Linked DNA regions of Homo sapiens: region 1 is reported to be linked to region 2. Evidence: microRNA targets listed by miRTarBase, many of them from high-throughput screens and not tested one by one. Region 2 holds a microRNA gene; the other region holds the end of a gene's coding sequence.

Region 1 (4,266 bases), not on the chromosome of region 2:
GTACATTTTTAATTTTAATTAGAATTATCCTGTATATACTGTTTTTATTCTGCCTTTTTAAACTTTATATAAGCATTTTTACCATCAGAAGAAGTTTTTAAAAAAGTATTATTTCCTGACATTTTTCAGTACTTTGTAGAGAAGTCTCTGATAATCTCATCTCTCCCAGGCTAAAAGCAATGATTGTAGTTTAAATCTGCAGCTACTCTGAACTAGGCCTGGAGCAGCCTGGTCAGAGCTTTACTAAACTCTCAGACTTTGCTGCTGTGAAATTCTTCCTCCTTCCTCCCTCTTACAGGTAGCAATGAAGTGATGAGGATACTGATCTCTAGAAGCCTGCTTCAGGAGTAGAACCCACACTTGTTCTGGCCTGGTGTTCAGTGCGACTGCAGTCAGTGTTGAGTGGTGCCATGTGGGCCGCTCTATTCCAAAGGAATCATGGATTAGACCCAAGGGCTGAGCTCCTCTAGGGCAGGACCTGCACCCTGTGTGTTGGCACCAGCATCGGGTCTTGGACTGGGGCAGAATCCCCAGTGGAACCGGAAGAGCTGGACTGATGAGAAACATCAGAAGAACACATACTACCTTGTTTTCCTAATGCCAGAAGGGTGACCAGTGAAGATTCACCGTCAAACCATGAAAGTCCTTTCTTGGATCCACTTTATCTTGATTAGTCTGCATTTTACTAGTTCACTGGATCCCTCCTCTAGGGGCCTGGGGACTTTCACTGATGCTCTTCCTGATTCTAGAGCAAAGGTGTGGGAAGGGGAAATGGAGGAATGCCCTCCTGTCTGTGTCGTTCTCTGTGCCACAGCTACAGATGCAGAAGGTTTCTCTGGATAGCACACCTCTGAATGTAAATCATGATAAAATGGATATTTGGAAACTTACTCCTAAGCTGTGATTTAGGGTGTATTTCTACTTCTGGACTGCCTCAATATCAAGGGCTGAGACTTTTGAATTTTGAATATTCGTTGGGTTTCATGTTAAGAAGCCTGTGGTCTAGGAGTGCTATTCAGTGTTTCTTTTCCTGATAAACACTTTGAATATTTTTTTTGTGTTTTTGTTTCCTTTTCTGAAGCTGTTCCTCCTTTTAAATATTTTTAATCACATTGATAAAATCTATCCTTCACCACCTCTGGTTCTACTATAGTTGATTTTTATTTTAAATGTTTAATTGTATTTGATTAAACACTTAACTGGATTTTGGAATAATAAAACTCTCGTCCAATTTGGCTTTTAAAAAGCAGGCTCCTTAAATTATTAATAACTTTGCAAACTAAGCATTGTTTATGATGTATGAAAGTAGAATTAAAGTGAGATTCACAGATGGGACTTCAGGAGACCTTGTTTTGTTTGTTTGTTTGCTGTTTTTTGTTGTTTTTGAGACAGAGTCTCGCTCTGTCGCCCAGGCAGGAGTGCAGTGGCACAATCTCAGCTCACTGCAACTTCTTCCTCTGGGGTTCAAGCGATTCTCCTGCCTCAGCCTCACAAGTAGCCGGGACTACAGGCGCAAGCCACCACGTCCGGCTACTTTTTGTATTTTTAGTAGAGACAGGGTTTCACCATGTTGGCCAGGCTGGTCTCAAACTCCTAGCCTCAAGTGATCTGCCCACCTCGGCCTCCCAAAGTGCTGGGATTACAAGTGTGAGCCACTGTGCCCAGCCAGGGGAGCTCTGTTATAACTTACTATGTTACTCCATCCCCTCATCCCTATTGAAAAGAATACGCAAGACATTAACTACAAGCCAATGTTTAGAGAGAAGAGAATATGTGTCTGTAACAACAACAAATACTGTCTTTTTTGAATGAAGGAAGTTTTGGGTGCTGCAGGAGGACAGGGTGTGGGCACACTACAAAGTTTAAAATGTATTCCTGCCGCCCAAGGCCTTATTTAAGAGGAGCTAAGAGCTGTATTGCAAGGCAATGATATAGATCTGTATAAAGCTGAGAAGGCGACAACCTATAAAAGTGATGAGGGAGGAAGGGATTCAAATTAAGCTTTTATGAGAATGTGGTCAGGCATGGTGGCTCACACCAGAAGTCCTAACTACTTGGGAGTCTAAGGTGGGAGGATTGCGTGAGCCCAGGAATTTGAGGCTGCAGTGAGCTACAGTCATACCGCTGCACTCCAGCCTTGGTGACAGAGTGAGACCCTTGTCTCTGAAGAAAAGAAGAAAAGATTTTATGAAAACGTCTAATTAGAATCAAGAAAGTCAATTTCAGACAGGAAGGAACCAGGAGCAGGAAAAGTACAGGATTTATGTAAAAGCTGTTTACACTTTGGTTTAATTGTGGTTTGGGGTTGGCATGAGACAGAAGGAAAATAGAAGTTGAATCCGGATGGAGAGTTATGAAAGCCAAGGGTGGGGCTTTATTTGGTAAGCAGTGGAGAGCCATGGAAGGTTTTTAATGCGGAAGATAGGAGATTGATTCATTCATAAGAGCACTCTGGAATGCACATGTGGGATGAATATGAGTGAGGCAAGACAGAAGACATACCAGTCAATGGGTTCTTGAAATAGTCAAGGAATGTGGCAATTCACGCTGGATGTGGAAGGTGGAAGGAAAGACAAGTGTTAGCAAATGCAGACCTGTCTGCTGTGGAACTTGAAGACCTTGCTAGTAGTCAGGCTGCTTCCTGGCATTCCAGGCCTGAGAGGCTTCTATTTTGACTCAAAGCAAAAACAAATGCTATGTTAATGTCTTCCTATGTGTCCCCTTCATAAGATTTTGGTGAAATCATATTAAAAGTGCATTTCTCAGTATCACTCTCAGTTATTTAGAGATTTCAGTTCCCCAGTACCCTGGCAAGGGATTTGACGAACGTAGCAAGAACGTCGTGAACTTTGAGCTAATTTATATCATTGTTCATTTGTCTGTTTAATAAATAAAAGCAAGAAAACCAGAGCAACAAATGTCTTAAGGAAAAGCCTGTGTGTCAGGGGCTGTATAGGTGCAGAACACATGCAGGTAACCAAATACAACTTCGCTGGACAGACCTAATGGACTGGGGGCTGGGAAACAGGAGACACAATTTCAGTAGGAGGCGGCAAGGACAAAGGCATACACCACGTGCTCTGAGGCATGAGAGGCCTTGCGGTCATAACACAATGACTTAGGTCAGAATTGGATTTCCACGTGGTTTTAATCCTAATAATTCCTCAAACTGCCTCCAATTATTACAGTTGTGAGGAAAATCTAACTGTATACCCACACACACACACACACACAAGAATATTTACAGGATCTTAAAATTTTCTCTTCCTCCTTTATAGATTTGATAAATTAGAAATGCCTTTTTTACTTTAGTGCTGATCCAATGATACTTTTACTTTAAAAACACTAAGATTCCTCCAAAGCATTTTCCATGTATCAATCTCTCGGTTTTTATGAGGGGTTCTTGCACAGAGGAGACAGTCAAGAAATCCTAGCGTGAAATTGACTTGAGGAAAACAGCAACTACCAGTGCTGGCAGCAGCCGCAGTTTGGGCCCCGGATCCAGACTCCTACATCTAGATGTGATTGCCTGCTCTGCCACTGACTAATTGTGTGGCTTTGTTACCGAAATGCCAGGGGTTCAGTCTAGGTCCTGCTGCTCACCGCACAGAAAGCCGATGACTGAGATGACAAGTATTGAGAGGAAGAAGCTTTAATCGGCTGCTGCAGCCGCGGAGATGGGAGCTCAGTCTCAAATCCATCTCCCTGAGGGACTAAAACTAGGGAGTCGTATACCAGGGAAGAAATGTACCAATGTGTTAAGAAAGCAGGAACTAGGAAGGGGCACGGAAGCAATTGTGATGAATGAGGGGTCTGGCATCTCGTCTGGATGTAGTGATCTGGTGAGTTCCAGTTCTTTGATACCTGTTTTGAGAGGCCTGAAGGTCTCTGAGGAAGGAACTCAGATAAAACAAATATAAGGTTCAAGCTTTAACACCAGAAGGTCAATTTCTATGTTTATCCAAAAAACTATCTATGGGACTGCTGGGTCACTGGGTCGCTTTCGGCTTTAAGCAAAATTACCACAACTCTCTTCAGCTTGTTTCCCCATGTATATTGGAGATCATAAAAGCTCCTACCTCATAGCATGGTTGGTGAATCAAGAGGAAGAATAAAGGGCTCAGAACAGAGCATATCAAGCAAAGCGTTATTAACCTCTTTCATAAACGAACATAGTGAGCCCTCCAGAGAATAAAGGGCTTTCTTAGACGTACACGGGTGGCAGGCTGAAGGTCTAAAGCACAACTCTTCCCAGGACCTTTAAGG
Region 2 (4,266 bases):
CTTCACTGCACCTCCTCCTCCATTTCTCCTCAGAAAAGAACATACAGTGTTAAGAATCCAAAGAGAAGCTCTGGCACTCTCACGACAGGATGGATGAGGAATATGGCTTGCCACTTATTTCAAATTGGGAACTAAGTCTCAGTTGGGCAAGGGCTACACTCACAAGGAGAAAGTATGGGGAACAAAGCACCATACACCTCACCTGGGCATTCGCAGCCTCCTCCTTTGGCTCGGTTTGCCACAGCAGCTGCATAGGAGCGTGCATCCAAGATCAAAAGCTTCTGCGGTTGGATGGCTAAACTCTCTGCTCCTGAAGCATTTGACAGAGAAGAATCTAGGGACACAGAGGGAGAGGGCATACTAAATGAGCCTGTCTCTCCCAGAACTGTGCAGAATTAGACCCACAAGCACATCTTATGGCACAAAAAAGGCTCAATAAAATGAAATCCCCTAACCAAAACCCTTGATACATAGGATTTTTCTCTTTTTTTCTATGTGGCCTTCTTATGAAAGATGAGAAGGATTTATTCTCCAAAACTGACTCCCAGAGTACACATGGGGTTCACACAGCCCAGTCTCTTATACTTCATTTCTGTATCTGTTGTCCTTTCATGAAGCCTGGCATTTCCTGCCATGGTCTGCAGATACTGCAAGTCCTCTATTACATAAACACTCCATTTTTGTCACAATGGCAAGAAAGACAACAAACACACTAATATCTTGATTCAGGTTTGAAACAAAGGGTCTTCTGATTCTCTGCCAAGACCCATGACTCCTCAATCAATCCCATCAAGTGAAGCTCTGCACATTCACTTCTATAAAAGTAAATCTATGTCTTGTAAGGAAGAGGCCATTTCAAGAAAAGGTTCTTAGATGCTATAAAAATCATTGCCATGGGTCCAGGGAGCACCTTACCGAACTCCACGTCAGAAAGGTCTCCCCCATTGGGAAAGTCTCGAGAAGTGTTCCTAGTTGACAGCTTGCTGCCACTCGATCGGGAGTCAGAGGCACAAGCTTTGGCTACTGACTGTACCAGATGCTCATCATCTGCATTTCGCCAGCCCCACCAGCTAACCTCTGGCTGTCCACAGCGGGCAATGACAGCTCCATTGCTCTGGTGCCTGTGTGAGGAACAAGAGACAACAACTGTACCCATTCAGATGCTCTCTGTACTCACACAAAATAGATTTTAAGTGCCTTAATGAACAGTCTAATTCTAGGTAAGTGTTGGGTCAGCTTCAAGTCCTCTCAGTATTAAAGAGGGTAGAAATCTTACACAACCAACAAGAACAAACAACAAAACCTGTGTGTCTTTCTCAATTACCATAACATCACGGAGATCCCTGTAAAGTTACCCAAAAAAATGACTAACAGGGGTCAGGCATGGAGGCTCACTCTGCAATCCCAGCACTTTGAGAGGCTGAGGCAGGAGGATCACTTGAGCCCAGGAGTTCAAGACCAGCCTGAGCAACATAGCAAGACCCCATCTTTACAAAAAAGTTTTTACAAATTAGCCAGGCATGGTAGCACATGCCTGTAGTCGCAGCTACTCAGGAGGCTGAGGTGGAAGGATCCCTTGAACCCAGAAGGCTGAAGTTGCAGAAAGCTATGATTGTGCCACTGCACTCCAGCACTCCAGCTTGGGTGACAGAGCAAGACCCCATTTCCAAAAAACAAAAAAGAATTAATGTGTACTCTTAGTGAAAATAAATCAATATTCGTAACTTAAATCTATAGGTACTACACTAATTCTGCTACCCAATAGTGAAATCTGCTACCTTCTTAATGCTGAACCAAGAGCCCGCCTCTGGGAATAAAACATTTACCTGGCCCACAGTGAACTGCTTTACAAAATCTCCTGAGATTTCATGAGTCACAGACTGCTCTTATAATAGGCAGATAGCTCAATGAGCCAGCTACCCTTCCTAGGGCTCTTAAGAAAGAGAAGAAGAGCATCAACCTCAGAAAACCATACTCTGACATATCCTTTTCCAATAAGACAGACCAGAAATCACAGTCTACTTTAAGGTGCTATTAAAACCCAGACTTTTCCTAGTTAGGCAATTTTAACTGATAAAAAGTTAGAAAAATTCTATTACTTGGCAGTAAAGAGGAATAAAGTTCTGATACAGGCTAGGACACTGATGAACCTCAAATATGTTATGACAAGTGAAAGAAGTCAGTCACAAAAGGCAACTTATTGTACGACAATTAACATGAAGTATCCAGAATAGGCGAATCTATAAAGATGGAAGTAGATTTCTGCATGTAGTGACTATTATAAACTCGTAGTTACTTAAGGGAGCTTGCCTAATTCTAAGTTGGGGTTACTTAAAACGAGTATGTTTCTATATAAAACTGAAGCACTCTATGTTTTACTAGCAGGGGCTTCATCCATTGGACATCTTAATTATTCAGGGCTAGGGTGGCTGGGTGCCCTGTGAATGGGTTTTTTGGGACGATGAAAATGTACTGTAATTTGTTTTTACTCCTAAAACTCACAAATAAGTTAAATTTGGCACTAATCAAATTCCACTGAAATCACCAGTTTGCTTGTAGTTTTTAAAGCCTCCCTCCCTGGGAGACAAGTAGCTGTAAGTACTTGTGTATTGCCAACATGCTCAACTGGCTCACGTGCTGAATGGGGCCAAAATAGAAATAAAACCTCAATGATTCTTTATAAAATGTCTCCTAGCAAATAACAGGCAACCACTGAGCTGAATGACTCCAAACCCTGCACAAGAGGCTGGTTGGGCCTTTCCTGAACATCCTCCTCTTCTTCAATGCTTCCCAGCAGTGCCCAAGAGGAGCAGTAGATGGCGCTCTTCAGCCTGGATCTTGGGTTTTAGGGGACACTGCATTATAGTAGCTATTAGATTTCAACTGGACTATTGCAATAAACAATTATGTTTTCTGCAGTCTTCTAAAATGCTTCAGACTACATGAAAGATAATTCAAACACTACAGTTAAAAATCACTAAAGGAATGCATTTCTATCACTAACAGAACCAGGCAAAGTATAAAAATTATGATGTCCAACAGATAAAGCCCTCCCTACTAAAACACAGAATGCTTCAATTTTATATAGGAACAGAATTGTCTTAAGTAACCTCAACTTAGATTTAGGCAAGCTCCCTTAAGTAACTAGGAGTTTAGAATAATCACCACATGCACAAAGGAAAAAGCTGTGAACTGCACTACAGATGGGTGCCCTTTACATCATCTTGCTATGTTAGAGCAATCTCTACCTTCAGTTATAAATCCAATTAAGTGCTCTCTCATCACAGTAGGACAAAGCCCTAATCAAGCGCTGGTTCAGCATGGTGCTGTCAAGTAACTGCTGCTGGCAACCTCAGGAATCATGACCCAATCTACAGACAACTAAATTCAGGAAATGGATGTCAAGAGTTCCAGGCATCCTGCCACCTAGGCTGGCAAAGCAGAGCATGGTGGAGGATCCGATTCTTCCACACGCCCCTTACAAAGCTCCCAAATACTACAGCAACCCAGTCTGCATCTCAGCGATACAAGACACATGTTCTGAGACAGAGCCCAGTTCCAGGAAACCTGCCTGATTTTGCATGGATGACTACACCAAGAACTTTGTGATCTTTTGAAAGACTTTCTCTGAAAAACTGCAAATAAAATTTTTCATTTATATATCCTCTTGTATCTCTAGAAAAAGGGGGGGAAAACCTAGGGTGCATGCCCTCTAGAATTAATTTTAGAAGGTGCATGCCCTCTAGAATAAAATTTAGAAAAAAAGGAAGTTTTTCTTCAACCAGCCCTCTTAAGCTTCTCTTCCCAAAGGGAGAATTCACCTAAAGCCTCTTATTTTGCAAATAAGAGTACCTTCCCCCTTTTGGTCAAAGTCAGCAAGCCCCACAGATGCCAGGGCTGCTGACCTAACACAGTTGTTGGCCAGAGCAGCAACTGGCTGCTTTCCCCATTCCAGCTGAGCTGATCATTGATAAGACTCATAAATCCCTTCAGCTTTCACTACTCTCTAGTTCCTGTAGCATCCTTACCACTTGAATGACAGGTAAATTTGGTGACTGACTTTTCTAGGGGTGTCTGAAAACAACAGTGATGAGAATTGAGATTAAAAACGTAATGAGTTCCACTGGGCCAGAGCAAATACTTTTCCATCTCTCTCCATTCAGAGTGGGCATCAGAGTTTGCCTTTAGTAGACTAAATGAACAAGCTGGTTACCTCTGTAGGAATTCCACAAGGAGACAAATCCCTTCCTACAATCTCAATATTTC

What was found. Region 2 holds the annotated microRNA hsa-miR-6818-3p (UUGUCUCUUGUUCCUCACACAG, at 1,122-1,143, opposite strand). A microRNA usually pairs through its seed, bases 2 to 8, with sites in the 3' UTR of a target mRNA and lowers its output. Matches are read on the target gene's strand: a 7mer-m8 pairs with bases 2 to 8, a 7mer-A1 pairs with bases 2 to 7 and ends in A, and an 8mer does both.
Region 1: the mRNA of ACAD8 is a reported target of hsa-miR-6818-3p. The part of its 3' UTR that is shown has no 7-base or 8-base seed match.

Annotation. Positions count from the first base shown.
Region 1 is chr11:134,264,610-134,268,875 of GRCh38, forward strand. ACAD8 (acyl-CoA dehydrogenase family member 8) reads left to right here. Exons shown (of 11, transcript NM_014384.3): 11 at 299-1,246. The coding sequence ends at 351. Among named protein-coding and RNA genes, the nearest start is that of GLB1L3, 9.6 kb to the right of the region's middle.
Region 2 is chr22:30,003,969-30,008,234 of GRCh38, reverse strand. MIR6818 (microRNA 6818) reads right to left here and starts at 1,186; the gene lies at 1,122-1,186. MTMR3 (myotubularin related protein 3) reads right to left here. Exons shown (of 20, transcript NM_021090.4): 10 at 916-1,121; 11 at 203-334.